Linked DNA regions of Homo sapiens: all the other regions are linked to region 3. The links come from fine-mapping of genetic effects on gene expression. A gene starts in region 3. Each other region holds a variant in brackets. All regions are shown on one strand. Distances are from middle to middle. Region 1 overlaps UEVLD (UEV and lactate/malate dehyrogenase domains). Region 2 overlaps TSG101 (tumor susceptibility 101). Region 3 holds the start of UEVLD (UEV and lactate/malate dehyrogenase domains).

The links. PIP is the estimated chance that this variant, and not a neighbour inherited with it, causes the effect.
Region 1: its variant is fine-mapped to the expression of UEVLD in whole blood (INTERVAL, PIP above 0.99).
Region 2: its variant is fine-mapped to the expression of UEVLD in whole blood (TOPMed, PIP 0.97).

What each region holds. Positions count from the first base shown.
Region 1 is chr11:18,563,706-18,571,705 of GRCh38, forward strand. UEVLD (UEV and lactate/malate dehyrogenase domains) reads right to left here. Exons shown (of 12, transcript NM_001040697.4): 4 at 6,509-6,672; 5 at 2,642-2,777; 6 at 1,187-1,305. Among named protein-coding and RNA genes, the nearest start is that of UEVLD, 21 kb to the right of the region's middle. The variant G/T (reference allele first, on the strand shown) is at 3,191.
Region 2 is chr11:18,483,758-18,491,757 of GRCh38, forward strand. It overlaps TSG101 (tumor susceptibility 101), which reads right to left. Exons shown (of 10, transcript NM_006292.4): 8 at 113-315. It also overlaps the pseudogene YWHABP2. Among named protein-coding and RNA genes, the nearest start is that of LDHAL6A, 32 kb to the left of the region's middle. RefSeq lists a silencer at 2,381-2,590 and an enhancer at 2,551-2,600. The variant C/T (reference allele first, on the strand shown) is at 4,689.
Region 3 is chr11:18,584,058-18,592,347 of GRCh38, forward strand. It overlaps UEVLD (UEV and lactate/malate dehyrogenase domains), which reads right to left and starts at 4,677. Exons shown (of 12, transcript NM_001040697.4): 1 at 4,556-4,677. The coding sequence starts at 4,597. LOC112268073 (a long non-coding RNA gene) reads right to left here. Exons shown (of 4, transcript XR_002957242.2): 3 at 6,479-6,784; 4 at 6,036-6,223. RefSeq lists enhancers at 3,725-3,834, 4,235-4,384, 4,425-4,484, 4,545-4,839, 4,745-4,794.

The sequences.
Region 1 (8,000 bases), 20 kb before region 3:
ATTAAGAGGTAATAGCAGGCCAGGTACGGTGGCTCACACTTGTAATCCCAGCACTTTGGGAGGCCAGGGCAGGTGGATCACTTGAGGTCAGAAGTTCGAGACCAGCCTGGCCAACATGGCAAAACCCTGTCTCTGCTAAAAATACAAAAATTAGCTGGGCGTCGTGGCGCATGCCTGTAGTCCCAGCTACTCTGGAGGCTGAGGCAGGAGAATCGCTTGAACCCAGGAGGCGGAGGCTGTAGTGAGCCAAGATTGTACCACTACACTCCAGCCTGGGTAACAGAGCGAGACTCCACCTAAAAAAAAAAAAAAAAAAAAAGAGGTGATAGTGTATTCAAATGGAGGGTGAAAGAAATAAAACTACAGCATGCCAAAAGTTGGCATATTTAACTCTGAGCAGCCAGCTTTTAAGATATTCTAGCTCCATGGATATAATTTAATTATTTGCTGCAGTAGAACCCACCTCCAAGACATATGTGAGTCTTAAATGGAAAGGGAAGAATTTAGATGGCAAAACAATCAAATATATATAGAAAAGAAAAACTAATGCCAGCCACCAAATAAATATATAGAGGTACAGCTATTCTATTCAGGGCTACATCTCTCAAATGACAAAAGACATGCTGTTATCATGATACTAGGCTCTGGAGGGAGGCAGGCAGGTCTTTTGAACCTCTCTGGAAGGGCATTTAAGCTTTCCTGCAAACAATTTATGCAGACACTAGTAAAAAGGACTGATGAAAAAAACAAACCCTAAACTAGTATTAAATATCAACTCAGAAACTGTGATCCTAAAAGAAAGTAATTATGTAAGAAAAGGCCATCTTTAAAAAAAAAAAAGCCAATTTTAGAAAGAGCTAAAATTACTACATTAAATGAGTTTAATTAAAGTGGCATGATTCAGAAAATACAAAAGAATTTGTGATTAAGTCATATGAATGTCAAATTGAGCTTTCCCTTGGATGAGGATAAGCCCATTGTTCAAATCACTTTTTTAAACCTACTAATTAAAAGGCAACATCACTGATGAAAGCTTTCAACTTTTTTGTCAACTTACTAAATATATTTTAAGCCAAAATAAGGTTTTCCCACGACAAAATGAAGGCATTTTTTGGTGTGTAAAACACAACCTGCCTAGAAGTGTGGCACTATGATAGATGTATTTATAACCACTATGTTTACATACCTTTGCTGAAATTGCTAATGTGCAGGCAATACCGAGTTCTCCACCTCCAACCACAGTAATTTTATTGACTGTTTTATTCTCATGATTTGCCCAGCTCTTTGAATTTGTATCTGAAACACCTAGAAAGAAAGGTGAATTATCCTGAGAATTCAAAAATATCAAGAATTTTTTTAGGATCTTTAAAAAAAATATATAGCAGGCTTCATAGCTTAGAGAGAAAATATGGTGCTAGTCCATAATGGGCAAAAAATACTACTGAACAAATGAATGCAAGGAAGGCAGACGTTTCCTATTAAATAGTCGACTAAATAGAAATTATCCTTCTAAAGAGAATGTATCTTTCTAAACATTTTTAAAATATTGTATAAGACTCTAAAAAAGTAGGATTTCCATAATTCTGAAAAATATTCCAACTCATTGCTCTGGTCTACAATAAAAAAATATGTCTAACACCTTACCAAATGTTTCAAACATAGGTATTTGCCTTTATTCTTGATGAGAATCATAGATATTCTGATCCAATATATTGAATAAGCCAACAAGCCACATATACATATCATGAAAAAAAGTTTGGGATCATTAATATACAGCAAGTGGTTTTGAACAAGAATTGTTTTATCTGTTTAAGACCAATTCTTTACACTTTAAGAAACCTGGCCAGGCCCGGTGGCTCATGCCTGTAATCCCTGAACTTTGGGAAGCCAAGGCGGGAGGATCACCTGAGGTCAGGAGTTCAAAACCAGCCTGGCCAACATGGCAAAACCTCATTCTTATCAAAAATACAAAAATTGGCTGGGCATGCCTGTAGTCCCAGCAACATGGGAGGATGAAGCAGGGGAATCGCTTGAACCCAGGAGGCAGAGGTTGCATGAGCCCATATGGTACCACTGCACTCCAGCCTGGGTGACACAGCGAGACTCCATCTCAAAAAAATAAAAAAATAAATAATATTTATTGGAATTACATGGTAATACCCTGTGATAAAGGCAAAGGAATTACTTTTTTTTTCTTTTTTTTTTTTTTTTGAGATGGAGTCTTGCTCTGTTGCCCAGGCTGGAGTGCAGTTGTTCAATCTCAGCTCACTGCAACCTCTGCCTCCCGGATTCAAGCAATTTTCCCACCTCAGCCACCCAAGTAGCTGGGATTACAGGCACCTGCCACCACGCCCAGCTACTTTTTTTATTTTTAGTAGAGATAGGGTTTCACCATGTTGGCCAAGCTGGTCTCCAACTCCTGACCTCAGGTGATCTGCCTGCCTCAGCCTCCCAAAGTCCTGGGATTACAGGAGTGAGCCACTGCGCCTGGCCTGAGGCACAGGAATTTCTTATTTCAAAAACAGATGTACATACGCACACAAATTTATTTATAAAAATCAAGTGGCAGAAAGTAAAGGAGTTTAGTGAGAAACTGGTAACTCATAACTCTCAAGATAATCTGCCTGACAAATATACAAACCTTCAGTGATTTTTGCAATATAGGCTAGCAAGTCTACCTGCCGTGCCTCATCAGATGATGATAGAGAATACATGGGAAGTTCCTCTTGAAACTTGGCAATCATTTCTTTAATTAATCCAACAATGACAGATTTAGGCTGTAGAATACACAAAAAACAGAAAAGTTACACAAAAATTTTGCTGAAGAATACTACCTTTGTTGAGGCAGGAGTATTACTTGAGCCCAGGAGTTTCAGATGCAGTGAGTTATGGTTGCACCACTATACTCCAGCTTGGGCAACAGAATGAGACTTCATCTCCAAACAAAACAAACAAAAAATCTTTTTTAACCTATACATTCTTTTAGAGTTAGTCAAAAAGAAGCATTCAATCATGTTCTCATTTTTCAAAAATCATCATACACATTATATGATACTTTTAACTGTTGTAATGCTTTTCATGAAAAATTACTGAATACTTTTAACTGAAAAATAAAGGAAGAAGAAATGCTAATTCAACATTTCCCAAAAGTAGAAAAATAGCATGAATATGCTTAATAGCCGAATACCTA[G/T]GTTTAGGAACTCTCCTTTTTTTAACTTTTCATTTTGAAATAATTTCAGACTTACAGAAAAGTTGCAAAAATAGTACATATACTCTTCACCTAGATTACTCAAATGTTAACATTTGATCACATTTGCTTGTTTAGTCTTTCTCTCTCTAGTTTTTCTGAACAAACTGAACAAGTAAACTGCAAACATGATGTCCTTTTACCCCTAAGTACTTTAATGTATATTTCCTAAAAGAAAAAGACATTCTCCTTTTAACCGTTATCAAATCAGAAAATTAACACTAATAGTATCTAATCTGGTACTGTATTCTTTTAATGTAATTGGTTAAGCAACCTTGATGAAATTCACTAACCTTTCTGAGCTTCAGTGTCATCAGTAATACAAAGTGAATAATAAATCCCAAATGGTTGTTATGAGCAATAAATGAGTCAATGAATGCAAACTATACGCCGTGAGTGTAAAACAGATGTTTATTATTATTCCTGGGAATATTTAGTAGTATGCTCATTTAAAAAGTGCTTAATTTCTCAGAGTCTGAGTTTCACTATTTATAAAGTAAGAAGAGGCTATTAGGGCCAAGAATTCAAATACCTTTGGGGACCAAGCAGGTAACGTTAAATGTGTGAAGCTGGCAAGTACAAGAAAATCTGGAGAGACGGTTATTGTGGCAAATTGGAAACAGCATGCCAATAGGCATTCAAATTTACATTAAGAACAAAACAAAACAAGGTAAAACAAAACGAACTGTGCTGTTCAAACAAATTCCATAGGCCTAACGCGGCCCTCTGAATCTCTCAGAGAAATTGCAAACCCTGGCCTAGATGACCTCTAGATTCCTTCTAGCTCCAAAGTTCTATAAAATTATGCTACATAATTATAATTCCAACTGCATGTGGAACTTAAAGGTGCTGCAGTACTTTTAAATAGGGCAATTTAAATAATGTAATGTCTTTTTAAGACTAGTTTTAAGTGGGGGCACTGTGGCTCACACTTGTAATCCCATCACTTTGGGAGGCTGAGGTGGGAGGATGCCTTGATCCCAGGAGTTCAATACCAGCCTGGACAACATAGGGAGATCCTGTCTGTACAAAAAATTTTAAAATTAGTAGTGGATGGTAGACCATGCTTGTAGTCCCAGCTACTCAGAAGGCTGAGGTGGGAAACTCACTTGAGCCCAGGAATTTGAGGGTACAGTGAGCTATGATTGTGCTACTGCACTCCAGCACGGGTGAAGACAGCATTACCCTGTCTCAAAAAAAGAGACTAGTTTTAGCTTATAATAAAGAGGCTCAGAACAGTAAAATAAAATCAGAACTGTCTAAACTAAAATTAAACACAACTTTCACTAGATTATAAGACTATCCCCGAGGATTTATTAAACAAACAAAATTATGAAAAGAGATGCCAATGAAAACCAGAGAGAAGAAACAGGATACATGAATTCCTGCAACATGGTACAGATGTCAAAATACTACTCGAGGATAGTTTTGTTTTGTTTTGTTTAAAGAAGGGTGTAACAATGGATGGAGGAGAGAAACAGACAATTCAAAAAGGAAGAAACGTACGATTGATAAGTAAATGAAAATGATTTCAATTTCTCAAATAACCAAACAACTGAAAATTAAGAGTAAGATCCATTTTTGTCCTTCCAACTGACAAATTTTTATTATGCCCCATTCATCACATTTAACTGGCAATCTTATTTAAATCATCAGGTAATGCAAATAACATAAATGTTCACAAAGTAAAATGTCAACTCCTACTACTGATAATCCGAAGTATGTCCTTTGTTTTTTCTATTTCTTTTTTCTTCTTTTTAAATGTTTTCTATATAAAAATATAGAAAACCATAAAACAAAGTAAAATGCATCTACAATTATACACCTTTTTATAAGCTGTCTATAAAATAAAAAGTGATAATCCTAAGGCATTCTTTACTCCAACCTCACTGGACTCCAATATACCCCTGTCCTCCAGCCCTACTAGCTTTCTGGTACATATAAACATATTTTTTTTTTTGAGGCGGAGTCTCGCTCTGTCGCCCAGGCTGGAGTGCAGTGGTGCAATCTTGGCTCACTGCAAGCTCCACCTTCTGAGTTCACACCATTCTACTGCCTCAGCCTCCCAAGTAGCCGGGACTACAGGCGCCCACCACCACGCCTGGCTTATTTTTTGTATTTTTAGTAGAGACAGGGTTTCACTGCGTTAGCCAAGATGGTCTCGATCTCCTGACCTCGTGATCCACCCGCCTCGGCCTACCAAAGTGCTGGGATTACAGCTGTGAGCCACTGCACCTGGCCTCATATAAACATATTATAAATTATCCTTTTATACAGATTTTTAATTATTTACAAAAATGAGAGAATACTATACATCTGTCTAAACCAATGTATAGAAGATAAGCAAAGGTTTGTTTTAAGGATAATACCTTCTATTAGAGAAAAGGTACTGTAAAATAGGTACCCTCCTACACTGATTTCTACTGATTATAGAAATGTATCATTTTGTGTACCCTTTTGGAGGCCAATTTAGTAATATATAAGAAAATCTTGAAAATATTGAAAACCTTTGGACCAATAATTCTACTCCAAGAGATTTATCATTACGGAAGTATCAAAGATATATTAGATATATACAAACATTTACATTTAAAGATGTTCATCATTAAATGTCTTACGTTAGGGCAATTTGTAAATACAATACGCAATATCCTTATGCTGTCATCAGGTAACCATTAAAAACCATGTATTTTGAAAATGGTTTAACATGGAGAAATGCTCAATATAATGGTCAATGAAAAATGCAGAATACAAAATTACATAACATGAGGACATAAAACAAATACTACAGTTATATAGATCAATGTGGATGACTTTTTAAAACTTAATATTGGTTAAAACAAAGCATGTCACAAAAGATTACATACAGTATGATTCAACTTATATGAAAGTCAAAAACAGGCAAAACTACAAATAAATATAACATAAAAATCTGTAATAGGAAGGGACTTGGAAATAATGCCCCAATCACTTGCTAGTAGCTCCTCCTGTACTTTCTCAAGTGGGAAACGACTATAAAAAGACAGGGAGCAAACAGTTGGCTCCAAAACCTGGAGGGAGCAGCTTTGTACAGGCAGTTGTCATCAGGGTTCTGGGACTTGGGTAACCCTAGAGAGCTCAATTTCAAATTACTTCCAAAGACTACATGAAGAATATCATTGAAAGAAAATGCAGTATCATACTTATTTGTACCAGCAGAATCAATGATAGGTATTTAAAAAAAAAAAAAAGCTTTCTGTAGAAAATCCAAATTGATCTTACATGGCTCCAGTTTTGGAGATAGGGCAAATATATTCTGCCTTGAGCATCCACATGTTTTCCGACTAAGATTCCCATATTTGCAGTTGGCTTCAAGAAGCAAATAGGGGGAGCGAAAGGGTGAGAATCCAAAATCCAGAAACGAATTGGTATGTTATATGTATTACCTATTTGAGACAAAAGAAACATATCTTCAAACAATAATAAAGCACACACATTATGATATAGCTAGGCGGCATTTTAAGAAATGAGTAGGCTGGGGTGGTGGCTGAAGCCTGTAATCCCAGCACTTTGGGATGCTGAGGTGAGCAGATTGCATGAGCCCAGGAGTTTCAGACCAGCCTAGGCAACATGGAGGAACCCCATCTCTACAAAAAATTTTAAAATTAGCTGGGTGTGGTGGCACACACCTATAGTCCCAGTTACTGGGGAGGCTGAGATGGGCAGATGACTTGAGCCTGGCAGGTGAAGTTTGCAGTAAGCCATGATTGTGTCACTGCACTCCAGCCTGGGTTACGGAGTAAGACACTGTTTCAAAAAAAAAAAAAAAAAAAAGAAAAGAAATGAGCAGTCTAGTCAGGTTTACATATAAAGGATTAATGTTAATCAAGGCCTATTCCCCCCCATTTCATCCACATTCACATTGGAAATATGTTCCTATTAGATCACTGGTATAACATTTGAGTAAGTTTAATTAAAACAATGGCCAAATCATCCACCCTGCCTCTCAAAAAAAAAAAAAAAATCAAATTTTCAAAAATGTTTACTAATATAGCCAGAGTGGCAGCCCAAATCCTGATGGAGTCACTTCCTACATTAATCACTACACATTAAAGAAAAGGAAAGAAATGTCTATTGAAGGCCGGGCGTGGTGGCTCACACCTGTAATCCCAGCACTTTCAAGGTGGGTTGACCACTTGAGGTCAGGAGTTTGAGACCAGCCTGACCAACATGATGAAACCCCATCTCCACTAAAAATTCAAAAAGTTAACCGGGCATGGTGGCAAGCACCTGTAATCCCAGATACTTGGGGGGCTGAGGCACAAGAATGGCTTGAACTCAGGAGGCATAGGTTGCAGTGAGCCGAGATTGCGCCACTGCACTCCAGCCAGGTGACAGCGCAAGACTCTGTCTCAAAAAAACAAAACAAAACAAAAAATGTCTATTGAAGGTATTCCCCTGGTTGATCAAGGATCTGCCTCCACCAATGCCCCTCCCCAGCAGTATTCTTGCATTTTAACAGCCCATGACTGGCAAAGCACCTGGTGACTCAGATTCCTGTGTCTAAACGTTAAGATTTCACCACTAGTTCACTAGTCTCTTCTTCCTTCCCTCTTTCCTATCAGCAAATACCTTGACTCCTACCCTGCACATCTAGCTTTTAGTAATTCAGCACTGAAGAGTCCGAACTCCTGGCACAAAGTCCTCAGATTTAAAGGAATTATATCATAAGAACATAACTTAAGTTGGATGTAAACAAAGTTTAGATAGGTGT
Region 2 (8,000 bases), 100 kb before region 3:
CCTATAATTTTCTGAACTCCTACTATGCCCACAACATCCAGGGAACATATAGAACACTCTGCCATGGCTACAATTCAATCCAAAAATTTTAAGTCTTTAATGAGTCACTTACTACTTCTTGATCTAAACGGGTAACCATCTCTTCCAGTTTCTGGTGACCCTTTTTCAGGTCTTCTTCTGTTCGTTTCAAGGCATTGAGCTCTGCCTGGGCACGATCCATTTCCTCCTTCATCCGCCATCTCAGTTTGTCACTGACCGCAGAGATGAGAGAGGCTCGGATGGTGTCCTCGCTGATTGTGCCATCCCTACTGGGACCTGCAGGAAACAGAGGCAAAAAACACTTGCTTACTTCCCAAGTTCCTTCTATTTGTCTCACAGGAACCTTCAGAAAAGGGGGCAATATGAACCGACACTTTCAAAATGTGAGGAAAGAAAAAAATTATGTTACCAGTTTCATGAGAAATAATGTAAAAATCTGAGTTGATTCAGAAATACTTGCCCTACAAGAGATTACTATTAATCCATGTTAAACCCAGTTTCCCTATTCATAGCCCAAACAATTAGCTACAATTAGTTATTTTCTCAATGAGACAGAGGCTATGTCCCTACCAATTACAATTATTCCTAAATAACCAACAAATGGCACAATAATTTCCACTAAGGAAAAACATTTGGTGCAGGCCAAGTCCAACATCAGGCTTCGCTGCTAAGCTGAAGGAGACAAGTGCCCACTGTAGAGGCCAGTGAGAGGACTGAGAATGGGCAGTTTCCCTAAACGAATGTACAGGTTAATAAGGCTTCCCTCTGTAAGACTTTTACTACTTCACCCTTTACCAACAGGACAGAACAGATGAACAAAAAAGAATGACATCCAAAAAATTCAACAGCTGATAAACTGTTTATTCCCAGATTCTTTACTATTCTCTTCCAAATGTCCCTTCCTAATCAGTATATTATATCATTTCCATGCATATTTCAGATCAAATAAACATCCTCTGGATATTTTCTTCAAAAAGGTCCCCTTTCTAATATAAGTTTGGGTATTCTTTATGACTATCAGTGTTCTTCAGTTATTGTCCCAAATCAGCAAATGTGTAAATGGCATTTTGACTTTTAATTATGTTTGATTATAAAATACTACGTGAGGACGTTAAGTATATTTAACCTTAATTGCCGCCTTTTTTTTTTTTTTTTTTTTTGAGATGGAGTCTCACTCTGTCACCCAGGCTGGAGTGCAGTCGCATGATCTCGGCTCACTGCAACCTCTGCCTCCTGAGTTCAAGCGATTCTCCTGCCTCAGCCTCCCGAGTAGCTGGGAAGCAAACTTCCTGAAGGGCCTTGTGAATTACCTGGGTCTTCTAATTACCTGTTAGATGATCCTGCTTTTTACCAAAACCATCAACAAACTCTGTCAACAAACTCTAAGCCATTCTAAACTAACAAAAAAGTTTAATGCTCTCGAACATCAGATCCCATCTTCTCTCTACCATTAAATTATGGTGAAACCTAATCTTTGCCAATGATCTTTCCTCCATTAACCATAATTCCCAAAACGTCAGCACAACAACTAGAATCTGCTCTCTCTTAACAGTTATCACTATATTTATTAGTTTAATAACCTATTTTCTGAAGGAAAGGTCTCTATAATCCTTATTATGCAGCCTAAATACTAAATGTTAAGGGTGGCAAACTGTTGCTGAATGATCTCCTGAAATCAACAGAATTGGTTATCTTCTAGGAGTCCTAGAGAAAAGGCCTCAGATGGTTAGAAGTCCTTAGAATGTGCTTTTTTGGAAACTTCCCTTCTCTTGTCTTCTGCTGCAATGTAGAAGAAGGTAATTATTAAAATTGTTTATAAATATATGAGCGCTCTCCAAAATAAATGGTATGGTGGTATTAAACCAAATGAAAGAACTCATCAATATCTCTACCTGAAAATCAGAAAAATGAACTGCTGAAGCTCTACTGCTTTGAAGGCATGTGGTTGGAAACAGTGCTGAAAAGTCATTAATAGAGTAAAATATTTAAAATTATGGATTTCATTAACAGCAACAGGAGGCAGCCAAATGCTGAGGCAGATGGGGTGGGTCCCCGGTGAAACGCCACCTTCAAGCCAAAAACAGCCTGAAGGCTGAAAGATTGGACTGCTGGTCCCGGATGAAACCCCTGACCTAGAGTGAGAACTTCTATTCCTGTTTGCCCACCCTTTCCCATTGATTCTTCCTCAATAATGCCTTTTAACCAATCAAATGTTGCCTTTTCCAATACTACCTATGGCCTGCCCTTCCCCTATTCTGAGCCTGTAAGAAGCCGCAGGACTCAGCCACTTAGAGGGGACTTTCCCACCTTTGGGTAGGGGAACCACCCCTGCATCCCCTCTCCAGTGAAAGCTCTTTCATCAGTCAATAAAACTCCCTGTCTTGCTCACTCTTGATTGTCAGTGCATCCCCATTCTTTGTGGGCACAGGACAAGAACTCGGGAACCAGCGGGTAAGCCAGACTCGGCCCAAGTGGGCCGAATGGGAGGGCTGTCTCTGGCAGCAGGTAGCATGGCTGAGGGAGGCCCAGGCAGGGTGTCGCTCGTCAGAGGTCCCTGGCTTGCAGAGTGACTGAGAAGAAAATCCTGCATCATCAACACTATCACTGCTTCACTTCATTCAAACAATTCTGCCCAACCAGCCACCATAATTCAGGGCTAAGCCCCTTCGGCAGTTAAATTCTTTAAAAATTTCTTATGCAGCCAAAAGACACATGAAAAAATGCTCATCATCACTGGCCATCAGAGAAATGCAAATCAAAACCACAATGAGATACCATCTCACACCAGTTAGAATGGTGATCATTAAAAAGTCAGGAAACAACAGGTGCTGGAGAGGATGTGGAGAAATAGGAACACTTTTACACTGTTGGTGGGACTGTAAACTAGTTCAACCATTGTGGAAGTCAGTGTGGCGATTCCTCAGGGATCTAGAACTAGAAATACCATTTGACCCAGCCATCCCATTACTGGGTATATACCCAAAGGATTATAAATCATGCTGCTATAAAGACACATGCACACATATGTTTATTGCAGCACTGTTCACAATAGCAAAGACTTGGAACCAACCCAAATGTCCAACAATGATAGACTGGATTAAGAAAATGTGGCACATATACACCATGGAATACTATGCAGCCATAAAAAATGATGAGTTCATGTCCTTTGTAGGGACATGGATGAAGCTGGAAACCATCATTCTCAGCAAACTATCACAAGGACAAAAAAACCAAACACTGCATGTTCTCACTCATAGGTGGGAACTGAACAATGAGAACACATGGACACAGGAAGGGGAACATCACACATCGGGACCTGTTGTGGGGTGGGGGGAGGGATAGCATTAGGAGATATACCTAATGTTAAATGACGAGTTAGTAGGTGCAGCACAACAACATGGCACATGTATACATATGTAACTAACCTGCATGTTATGCACATGTACCCTAAAACTTAAAGTATAATAAAAAAAAAAAAGAAAAAAAAATTTCTGTTCCCAAGGGAACATCCAAATTCTTTAACAAAGAATACTACCATAATTACCATAATTCAATCTCCTGGACTTGCTTTGGTTTCCATTTTTGGCAGGGAGGGGAAAACTGATTTATAATTTTGGTCTCTCACAACAAATTCAAAGGATTAGAAAAAATGTAAAATGCAATATAATTTGAGAAAACTTTACTAAAACACCTTAACACAAGGAAGAAAAAACATTAGATCGTTTCTGTAACCATTAAAATTTTTTTTCTAGTAGAGAGGTAGTCTCACTATGTTGCTCAGGCTGGTCTCAAATTCCAGGCTCAAGCTATCCTCCTTCCTCAGCCTCCTGGAGTGCTGGGATTACAGGCATGAGCCACTGTGCCTGGCATCCCACCTATTTGCTATTGCAAAAAACAAAAACAAAAGAAACAAAAAAACCTCAAAGTATAGGAATCTGCTATAATTCCTGGTTTGTAACAGGAGTGGTGGCCCAGCTCATGCTTCAGTGAGCATACATCCTCCTTTTCCATTGCTCCATGTTGCCCATCTCATCTTCAAATTACAGTATTAGGCAGGAAGCTTTTGGTAGATCTTTTTTTTTTGTATTTGGGTATTTTTTGTTTTTAACTGATAAAATTTTTATTTCACTTTTGAAGTTTTACACTTTTCCTGATTATTCTGTGTAAGGTGAAACTGGAACTGTTTAAAAGACATACACAAACCTAGTACATCAGTAACAGGATTTTTCTTTTTTGCTATACTATTTTCACAACCACAGGTGTGCTTGCTAGACAATATAACCATCACAGAAGAAAACATTAGGCAGAATACTGGTTAAGGAAAAACAAAGCAAGAAAAGAGCTACCAGATATACAAACAGGCTTAGCTCCACATTCACTACTGCATTTTCAAGGGCCAACTATTAACTGCACATTTTTGTTCAGTTAGAAAGGAGGGATTTTTGTTTTTTTTCTTTTTTTGGTTTGTTTTAAATCAGTGCATGAGGTTTTCTTTTCTCATTTCAGCAGATGGACAAACAGATGGACTCTACAGCTAGATGGAATGTTAAAGGTAGAGGGGTGATATTGTGAGACTGATAGGCCTATTATCAATTCTCTCCACTGCAGTGTCCACACAACTTCCCTGAATATAGGGTCTCGTTAAAACA[C/T]ATCTGAGAGTTGAGCTGGATAAGTGCACTTGGGAGACCTGGTGAGGGGCACTAAAAAGCATGATCAGGGCCAGCCTCAATACAGGGAGAAGTCAGGGATATTTAAAAATACTTTTTTGATTCAGATCCTGGTATGACTAAAGAGCAACACCGTGTTGAGAACTGGAGGAAGACAGAGCTCTGGTGCTAGAAGTTCTTCTCAAGTCTTTAAAGCCAGGCTTGCTCACCAAGTTGCTCACTAATGTCTCTCACCCCTGCCCATATACAGCATTAAAAAGTGAACAAAAGACAGGTAAAGATAGAATTCAAAAAGCAAAAAAAGGAAGGAAGCAGAAGGACAGAAATTTAGAGAGGAGGGAAGGGAAAACCAAAGTCAACAGTCAAAAAGGATGATGGGGGGCCGGGCGCAGTGGCTCACACCTGCAATTCCAGCACTTTGGGAGGCCAAGGCGGGTGGATCATGAGGTCCAGAGATCGAGATCAACATGGTGAAAACCCATCTCTACTAAAAATACAAAAATTAGCTGGGCGTGGTGGTGCGTGCCTGTAGTCCCAGCTACTTGGGAGGCTGAGACAGGAGAATCGCTGGAACCCGGGAGGCGGAGGTTGCAGTGAGCCGAGATCATGCCACTGCACTCCAGCCTGACAACACAGCAAGACTCCATCTCAAAAAAAAAAAAGGATGGTGGGAAAGAATGTTTTGATTTCAAAATTTAAAAGCCCCAAGCCAGGAAATTCAGTACTCCTCAAGTGAAAGGCAATCTCTACAGAACATCATTCTATTTTTTTTTTTTTTTGGAGATGAGGTCTCCCTACGTTGTCCAGGCTGGAGTGCGGTTATTTCACAGGTGCAACCACAGGGCACTGCAGCCTTAAACTCCTACGCTCAGGCGATCCTCCTGCCTCGGCCTCCCAAGTAGTTGGGACTATATGCCTACACCACCATGCCTGACTCAGAAGATTATTCTTAAAGGTATTATCCAGGAAACAGATAAGGTCATTCATAAAACACATGGCTTTTCTTTAGCTCAGTGTTAACAATGAAAATAGATTCCATTATTGAAGCACAAGTTGCAAATTGGTAACAAAGTGAACACACTGCAGTAGAAAAGGGGATTTAGTCAGGTGTGTTATATGAGCACTTGGACTTTTCAAGGTGTCATAAGCCAGTTATCTGCCACAAAGAATTTAAATTTCAGGATTCGAGTTTCTTCAGAGGAAGACACTGTGGACATCTGTGGTCATGAACTTTTGAGTGGCAACAGCCCAAACAGGTCAAGTGTCTTTAAGTGCCAAACAACAGGCAGCATTACTATGAATTACCATTAAACTCAAATGCCAAATGATGTGTGTCTCACTCCAGGTTCTAGCATCATAATATAATCTCTATAACCTTCTGTACAACTTTACAATGGAATTGTATTTCAATGATTCTGGTATCAGATTAAACTTTCCAAAAAGTTACACATAATTCAGGTCTATTTTTTCTACAAGTAAGAGTTTTGCTAAATTACAAAACCCCATAATCACAGTGTTGAATTAAAAAAAATTAAACACACAGTAATCCTGTCAATGTTAATCAAAATCAAAACTTCAGAATGCCGTGGCATTTATGTGACCAATCTGAGTTTTAGAATACAAACACCAGCTGTTTATCCCATGAACCATTTTTGCTAGGCTGAGGCTGTGAAAAATCCAAAGTCAACATACAATTATTTTTTACCACACAAGGGATATACGTGGAGGGTACAGAGTGACATTGAACAGATTACAAAGCACAAGAAACATTACTTCTCTCCCTCCCCAGCATCTCCTTCATCTTCCTGGTTTTCCGATGTCCACAGAGTAACACTGTCCCAAGTAATTGCATGATCAGAGTGCTGTCTTTATAAGACTCTTCATTCAGTGTATCCAATTCAGTAATTGCTTCATCAAATACTGTTTTTGCCAGGCTGCAGGCCTTTTCAGTAGAGTTTAGAATCTCATAGTAAAAGACTGAGAAATTAAGTGCCAGACCAAGTCAAACTGGATGTGTAGGCTGCATTTCTTCTTTCTTACTAATTTCAAATGCTTCCTGGTAAGCCTGCTGGGAATTCCACACAGTGGTTTGTTTGTTGTCTCCAGATGCCACTTCAGAAAAATACCTAAAATAATCTCCTTTCATTTTCAAATAGAAAATGGTTGTATAGAATTGAGAACAAGATATTTGTCCAACAGCTCCAGAACGTCATTGCAGATGTCCTGCAGTTCTGCCTCTATCTTCTCATGCTACTCTCTCCCCATCTGCTGCTGTTTCTCATTCCTCTGTTTTCTGCTCAATGCTGGAGAAGACATGCCAGGAAAGCAGCGGGCACCAACCATGTTCTTGTAGGCAACAGAGAGCAGATTTCTCTCTTCGTTGGAGTATTCATGCCTCGTTCTGTGACTGCCTTCGTGACTACAGCCATATCATCATAGCGCTCAGCCTGCTCAGTGAGTTGGCTTTCTGTACCAGCTCACTTTTATCCAGTCGTTCCCGTGGGAGGGCTGCAGGGGACGAGGATGCTTCTGAGCAAAGCTCCAAGTGAGGTGACCACTTCTTTCCCAAGCCCACTCCTCTGGCAGCGGTGGCGGTGCCTGCCGTGGCTGCAGCGACGGTAGCAGCAGCTCCTGTATTCGGATATTTTTAAAGTTCAAGCAAAATAAGGCAAAATGCCTTACAGCTTGGTTCTGTGTAGTAAAGAATTAACTTTACCCAGAGAGGCCACGCCTTTGCCCTTGGCTCCTGGAGGTGATGTCTAAGCCCTCAGAACTTCCTGACTAATTAGAGTGTTCTTTATCTACACCAGACAGTCTAACAGTGTGATTTATGGGGGGGTCTGGGCCATGCAGTGATAGGTAACAGCTCAACCTCTGGAGGAGCTGGAGACTAAAGGTCAGCCTCACAGGCAGTCAATGGTGTCTATATGACCAAGTCCTGATAAAAACTCTAGACCCAAGGCTCAGGTGAGCTACCTTGGTGGGTAATACTCCATGCATAATGATACATACTGTTACTGGGAAAAGTCAGCACTGCCTATGACTCCACTGGGAGAAGACAACTAGAAGCTTTGCACTTGAAACTTTCTGGGTTGCCCACGTGTCTTTCCTCAGCCTATTTTAATCTGTATCTTTTGCCATAAGTCATAACTGTGAGTATAATAGCTTTCAGTGAGCTTTTAAAGTCCTTCTAGATAATTATAGAACTTTAGGGTGGCCTTGGGAAACCATGAACTTGCAATGAGTGTCAGAAGTGCAGGTGGTTTTGTGAACTTCCAAACTTTACAGGTCCTT
Region 3 (8,290 bases):
AAATGTAACACTTAATATAAACGAAGGAATATACTTATTGGCTGGGCATGGTGGCTCACATCTGTAATCCCAGACTTTTGGACAGTCAAGGACAAAGGATCACTTGAGGCCAGTAGTTTTGAGACCAGCCTGGGCAACACAACAAGACACTGTCTCTACAAAAATAAAAACAAAAATTGGCCAGATGTGGTGATGTTGCCTGTGGTCCTAGCTACCTCCAGAGGCTGAGGCAGGAGGATCACTTGAGCCCAAGAGTTTGAGGCTGCAGTAAGCTATGATGGTACCACTGCACTCCAGCCTGGGAGACGGAGCAAGGCTCTGTCTCTTTAAAAAAAAGAAAAAGCACACGCTTTTTGCAGAATAATAAGTACTGGTGAATTGACCCACCCACTTATGATACAGAACTGTCTGACAAAGCTTTCTGCCATAATGGAAATAATCTACACATACATTGTCCAATATGATAGCCACAAACCACATGTGGCTACTAACAATTGAAATGTGATTAGTGATTTTATTCCTGTTTTTAAAAAATGCTTATTTATATCTTTTGCCCAATTATCTATTTACTTTTTTGTTTGCTTTGTTTTTTTGAGACGGAGTCTTGCTCTGTTGCCCAGGCTGGAGTGCAGTGGCGTGATCTCAGCTCACCACAACCTCCACCTCCCGGGTTCAAGCGATTCTCCTGTCTCAGCCTCCTGAGTAGCTGGGACTACAGGCCCATTGCAGGATGCCCGGCTAATTTTTGTATTTTTAGTAGAGACAGGGTTTCACTATGTTGGCCAGGCTGGTCTTGAATTCCTGACCTCGTGATCTGCATGCCTCAGCCTCCTAATGTGCTGGGATTACAGGTGTGTGCCACCATGCCTGGCCTATTTATTGGTTCTAATATTGATTTGTAGGCATGCTTTATATATTTTAGATACCAATACTTTGTCAGTTATGTGTGCTACAGATAGCTTCTCTAAGTTTGTATCTTGCCTCTTCACTTTCTTTAATTTTCTTTTTAAAAAAATTGAGATAGGGTCTTGCCATATTGTTCAGGCTTGTCTCAAACTCCTGGACTCAACAGATCTGCCTGTCTTGGCCTCCCAAAGTGCTGAGATTACAGGTGTGAGCCACCACACCTGGCTGCCTCTTCACTTTCTTCATGGTGTCTTCTGTTCTTAATTTTAATACAGTTGAATTTGTCTCTTATTTGTGTATTATTTTAAAACGGTTTGCATATTCTGAGCCTATAACATTTATCTTTTTAGGTTTTAAAGTTGTCTTTTACATTTAGGTCTTTAATCCACTGGAAATTTTTATGTTTGGCGTAAGGCAGGGATACAAGGTACAATTTCATTTTTCTCATGTGGATATTCACTTGTCTCTCCATTCTCCTTTCGCCATTTATCTGCAATGTCTTCTGTTTTATATTGCATTTCCAAACATGTGTGACTACGATTCTAAGCCCTTTAGTCTGTTTCACTGGTTAGTCTATTCCACACCAATGCCACACTAAATTTTACTTGCCGTAGTACTGATATTTGGTAGAGCAGGTCCTCAAATCTATCATCTATTCTTTCCTTCTTTATTATTATTATTTTTTTTTTTTTGAGACAGAGTATTGCTCTGTGGCTCAGGCTGGGGTGCAGTGGCGCATTCTCAGCTCACTGCAACCTCTGTCTCCTGGGTTCAAGCGATTCTCCTGCCTCAGCCTCCCAAGTAGCTGGGGTTACAGGTGCCCACCACCATGCCCAGTTTTTACATTTTTTAGGAGAGACGAGGTTTCACCATGTTGGCCAGGCTGCTCTTGAACTCCTGACCTCAAGTGATCCGCCCACCTCGGCCTCCCGAAGTGCTGGGATTAGAGGCGTAAGCCACCACACCCAGCCCTCATATCTATTTTTTTTCCATAATAATGTCAAGGTTATCCTTGGCCTTCTGCTCTTCTGAATGAATTTTAGAATCAGTTTGAAGTTTCCAAGAAATGCATTGACCCTATAGATAAATTTGGAGAGAACTGACAATCTTCACATCTATGAAACTGGGATATCTATTTAATTAGATTTTTTACTTTCTCCATAGTTGCTTAATTTTTTAATGTACTGATCACTTCTCCATCGATTTTTTCTGCAACAAAATTATTTCTAAGTTTTAAAAAATTTTAAATTCATTTTTTTTTATTTTTTTGAGATGGGGTCTCCCTCTGTTGCCCAGGCTGGAGTGCAGTGGCACGATCTTGGGCCACTGTAACCTCCACCTCCCAGGTTCAAGTGATTCTCCTGCTTCAGCCTCCCGAGTAGATGGGATTACAGGAGCGGGCCACCACGCCTGGCTTATTTTTTTGTATTTTTAGTAGAGATGGGGTTTCACCATGTTGGACAGGCCGATCTCGAACTCCTGGCCGCAGGTGATCTACCCGCCTCGGTCTCCCAAAGTGCTGGAATTACAGACGTGAGCTACCGTGCCTGGCCTTACATTTATTTCTACTTTTTAGAGACACGGTCTCGTTCTGTCTCCCAGGCTGGCAAGCAGTGGCACAATCATAGCTCTCTGCATACTCAAACACCAGGGCTCAAGCTATTCTCCTGCCTCAGCCTCTCAAGTAGCGGGGACTACAGGCATGAGTAACTGTGCCTAGACTAAAATTATTTCTAGATATTAAACAATATTATTTGCAGACTGCAGTGAATGGTCAGGAAACTTCATATATTTGCTGCACTGACTTGTTTCTGATTGGTTTCCTTAATTTATACAGCCAACAAATACTTATTAATAATAAGCTACCCCAGCCTGGCCAATATGACGAAACCTCGTCGCTACTAAAAATACAAAAAAAATTAGCCGGGCTTGGTGGTGGGCGCCTGTAGTCCCAGCTACTCAGGATGCTAAGGCAGGAGAATCGCTTGAACCCAGGAGGCGGAGATGGCAGTGAGCAGAGATCGCGCCACTGCACTTCAACCTGGGTGACAGAGCGAGACTCCGTCTCAAAACAAACAGTAATAATAATAATAAGCTACCTATGTGCCAGACTCTATGCTATGCACTGATGGGGAAAAAAAAATCCTCTACTATTCTACTCTCACCCTTGAAAAAACCATTGTCTCTCTTCTTTTCCTTCATTCCAGTGCCACCAAAAATATGCTCTATGTTTGAATCTTAACTTGAACAATTCTTCCCATCGGACAATCCATCATCCTCTGCACATTAAAACTTGAATGGTTCTTTTAATTTCACATGCTCTGAAGAGGAGACAGAAAGGGTAGCATTATGATACTTCTCTTCCTACAAGATCTGCACCTGTCGCAGTAGATAAATTCATTCAAGTCACTTACATAAACAATTTCAATCTTAGGACTTCAAAACCTCCCACGGGTATGTAAACTGCCCCAACAAAGAAAGAGGCAAGTATAACAAAAATGGCATAAACTATGGTTTCTGCATTAGGAAGTCTTAAGAAGCATTAAGAATTATTTAAGGCCGGGTGCGGTGGTTCATACCTGTAATTCCACCACTTTGGGAGGCTCAGGCGAGTGGATCACTTGAGGTCAAGAGTTCGAGACCAGACTGGCCAACATGGTGAAAACCCATCTCTACTAAAATACAAAAATTAGCCAGGCATGGTGGCACGCGCCTGTAGTCCCAGCTACTTGGGAGGCTGAGGCACGAGAATCGGCTTGAACCCGGGAGGTGGAGGTTGCAGTGAGCCTAGATCGCACCACTGCACTCCAGCCTGGGGGACAGAGCAAGACTCTGTCAAAAAAAAAAACACAAAAAACAAAAAACCACCTTAACTAGGAAACTGGTGAAAACTAGTCTTCTTAACTAGAAAATTGGCGGGGATTCCCTCAGATTGTACACCGGAAACTCAGGCTAGTCAGGTCTCAGAAATATAGGTCAGATTTCTAGGTCGGCCCGCCTACTCCCCAGCCTTCCAACATTAAGATCTCTCCAGGGCCTTCAAGCTCTGTCTTCATCTCTAAATCTACTCAGGTCTTTCATTCACTGCACAGTTACTTAGTACCTATGGTGTTGTCAAACATAGTGGCTAGAGGAAGGGAATACAAAAGCACAATGTCTGCAGTCAAAGGGGCTCACAGCAAGATTACGGTTTGTAAATACATAATTACTCCACAATGTGATAATCGATATCTTTCAAAACAGAAGGGTTGATTCAATCTTACAGGGAGTGACTGAGTTGGGTCTTACAAAGGATGAGCTTTGCAATTCAAGAAAAAAGAAAAAAAAGGCAGACCATTTCAGCAGAGAGAAAGAGAGAAAGGCGTGGTTAGGCGTGTGCTGGGAGCTGTTTGAGGTCAGTGAAGCTGGGGGTATGAGGAGGGCTCGCACCAGGTGGAGGTTGGGAAACCTCAGAGTTGCGGGAGAAATCAGAATCCAGGTCCCCTCAGCCTCCCTGGGGCCGCGCCCCATAGCCGGTTTCAGACCAGCCGCCCCGGCTCCAAGCCCCACTACAAGCCGGGAAACGCAAAACGGAGGCAACCTGGCCAAAGGCAGAGGCACCCCCCGCAAGACCCTGAGGACCCAAACTGGCCCAGCGGACTGCCCGCACCTTGCCAAGCAGCCGTCTCAGGCCCTCGCAGTCGAACTCCATCTCCAGGCCGGTCCCGAGCTAGGTCCCAGGACTCCAGCCCCCGGACCTTCTTCCGGACTTGCTGCAGGACGGAAGCCGCTGAGGACCAAACTTCCCGGCGGTCCAAGGCCCCGCCCCTTCCCAGACTGGAAATTCCACCCGCATTCAACGCCCCGGGCTCAGCCGCGGCTGCGCCCGGAATCCGGGGCCTCTCCTTCGTGACCCCGGAGTGGGCAAGTGACGAGGGCACGGCCAGAAACGCATTGGCGTCAAGGAAACCACGACCCATCTTCCTGGAAGGAAACTTGGGGACACTTATGAAGAGAAGACTAGGAAGGACCGGAGTAGAAGCACTAAAGGAGGTAGAGGCAACACGCGGTGTTCTTGAAGAGTTTCCAGACAGATGTATTAAATTCCACAGTGTATCAGGAAAGAGCAAGACCGAAAATTGCAGTTGAATTTAGGAAGGAGGCGGTAATGGAACTTCAGAAGCAAAATTTCAGGGAGTAGAAAGGAAAAACAAAGTCAGGAGGAGCCTTGCCGGAGAAGCGGAGATAGGACAGCCCCAGCATGAGGGTGGCTTAGCACGGGGAGAGTGGTTGCTTTTTTTATTTTTTTTAGGGGTGCCATAACAATGTTGGTGGTCAAAGAGAGGAGAAATCCAGGTGAACAAATAGTTGGAAAACAAGAGAGGAGGGAGATGGGTGGATAAGGTCATCTGGAGAAGGTGGGTGAAGAAGAGATGCAGGATACAGTAATTTTCTGGCGTTGTTTGATCTCCTTGGCCCATGGCTGACTTACCTGCCCTGTATCCCTGGCCTGAGCCACTGAAGCGAAAAGTCCCAGGAGCTGGATATTGTAATTGTCAAGAGGTTGGACATATAGGAGAGAGATTGTATTTATAGGAAGATCTGAAGGGAGTGCTGCCCTGACTCAGGAGAAGAAGCTGAAAAGCTGGAAGGAACATTCATTCAGAAAGTTTTTGTTGAGCATCTACTACTTGCCAGCTATTTTTCCAGGTCTCAGGATACAGCCGTGAACAAAATACACTCAGATAGCTGATGTCTTAAGGGTGTCATTCCTTTATTAGCAGAGAGAGAGCAAAACAATAAATGTAATAAGTAAATTATTCAGCATGTCAGAAGGTTGATTACGTGTTGTGGAGAATAAATTCTGAAAAGGGTAGGGAGATTGGGGTAGGTCTCACTGAGGGGTGAGGGAGTAAGTGTTACGAATCCGAGTGCAGACAAAGCAGTAGCCTAAGGCATGTGCCCAGGGAGGCTCAACACAGCAAGGAGGCCAGTGTGGCTGGAGTAGAATGAAGTAAGATGGGAGTGGAGACAAGGAGGCTAAGTCAGGGAAATAAGACGGGGGAACAAGTGGTTTAGAGAAGTGAGTCTTCTAGTGTGAGCCCCAGATCTGCAGCCTCAGGTGCTGGGAGTTGTTAGAAATGCAGATGCTAAGACCTCAACCCCAGCTTTATTCAATCACAGGCTCTGGGGTTGGGGACCAGCAATTCTCTTTTAACAATTCTTCCAGATGATTCTGATGGGTGATGAAGTCCAAGAACCACTGTGGGACTTTGTAGACAATTGTAAGGACTCTGGCCTGTCCCTGCCCTCCAGCCAGAGACCATCAGGAACACACCTGTGCTTAAACAAGTTGAGTTCATTATTAATAGTTCTTGCAGTGAGGAAGCAGGTGTTGTGGAGGACCATTGGGACAGCTTGGTGAGGGTGAGAGAACCTATTATAGAATTTGGGCGATTTGCGGGAGGGCTCAAGAAAGCCAGGCTTCACCCTGGATTGGGTGCTGTCAGAAAGCAGGGACATTTCTGTGACTAGGTATCTGAATAAGTATTGTCTATAAGATGGACAGACTAGAGTGAGGATAAAGCTATACCTAGTAAAGAAGCAGCAGTCACTCATAATAGCAGAGAAGGACGTTTGGTATTTCATGGCTTGCACAGTGACCTTGCTCTCTTGTCTCTGCTTAGACACAATTTTGAAATGGCCTTGTTGTTGTGTCCCTTTTTTATAGTCTGACTGACCTTGTCTCATGTTGGTGTTCTGTGAGATTATGTCCCACAGAAGAATAACTGGGCCAAGCTGTGAGCATCAGGCCAGCTTCTAACAACCCTGAAGTCTAGCTGTGTCAGACCAGCTCTCAGATGTCAGGGCCTGCCTCTTCCTTTCTCAGGCTTTTAATCTGGGAGAAAGAGAAAGCCACTGGGAGGTTTCGAACAGAACAGTGACATGATCTGACTGAGCTTTAAAAAAATATTAATAACTCTGCAGTGTTGTGAAGAGGCAGTAGTGTCAGGCAAGAGTAGGCCAGAAGACAAGGTAGGAGGAAGATTACAGAGAAAAGCTGATAGAAGGGCTGTTAAGTGCATCTCAGCCAGATCTAACCAACCTTAAAACAGTAGAACTGCCAGGGGCTCCAAATTCTAATAGATCCTGCCAGAAATCCGTGGTATAAGGAAAAGATACCAGTTAGCAGCAAGGCCAGAGCAAGATTCTTCCATCTTTTATGAAAGAGCCTTTTATGAAAGAGGCCTTCCAACCAAACCAATTCTCTTCTGGTCTAGTCACTATGCACACTTTATGCCAGAGAGAGTGTGAGTGAGTGAGTGTGTGTGTGTGTATGTAGCATTTCCTTTGTGGAAGGTATACTGCTAAGAGTTTTATGTGCTTTATCTCCGTTCATCTTCATAAGACCCTATGACCTGGATAGAATTATTACCTCAATTTTACTGATAAGAAAATTGAGGTGTATTGTTATATTACCTATTTTACTTGTTTCTGAGGTTCTGTTGAATAAGAGATGTATTAATGATAGCTTTTGGGGGGAGAAGAAAACTACAAAATTAAACATACATACTGATTTTAACACACCTATTTGAAAAGAATGTAAATGTGAAATAGAGGATATGTATATAATTGTCTCCATTTTACAGATAGGGAAACCAAAGACTAAGGTTAAATTACTGCAGAAGATGATGTCAAAGACTGTCTTCCTAAACTACATGTTATAGTGCCTCTCACTGTGGGTGAAATTGTGATGACACTTTGTGATTAATAATAGTCTAGGAAATCAGCCAGGTGTGGTGGCTCATGCCTGTAATCCCAGCACTTTGGGATGCCCAGGCAGGCGTATCATCTGAGGTCAGGAGTTCGAGACCAGCCTGGCTAACATGGCGAAACCTCATCTCTGCTAAAAATACAAAAATTAGCTGGATGTGGCGGCAGGTGCCTTTCATCCCAGCTCTTTGGGAGGCTGAGGGAGGGAGAATTGCTTGAAGTTGGGAGGCAGAGGTTACAGTGAGCCGAGATCTTGCCACTGTATTCAGCCTGGGCAACAGAGTGAGATTCCATCAAAAAAAAAAAGGTCTACAAAGTCTGAATTATGTGCTTATATTGCTATGCAGTTACAAGAGAAAGGCTGTGTAGTACTGAAATTGGCTTTTTTTTTTAAGCCTCTCCCTTGACTTCCATCCTGACCACCAGGCTACCCTCATCTCCTGAAACTGGTGCTATTAGATCCTATAATCCAGTTAGGCTGAAACATTCACTCTTCCCCAAGTACATTGTCTTCTTCCTTGCCTCATACCTTAGTAGCTGCCAGGAGTGTTTTATTATACTTTTGTACCTGTCTACCTCCATCTCCACTCCTCTTTCTGTCCTCAGATACTGTAAGGCCCTGGCAAATAGG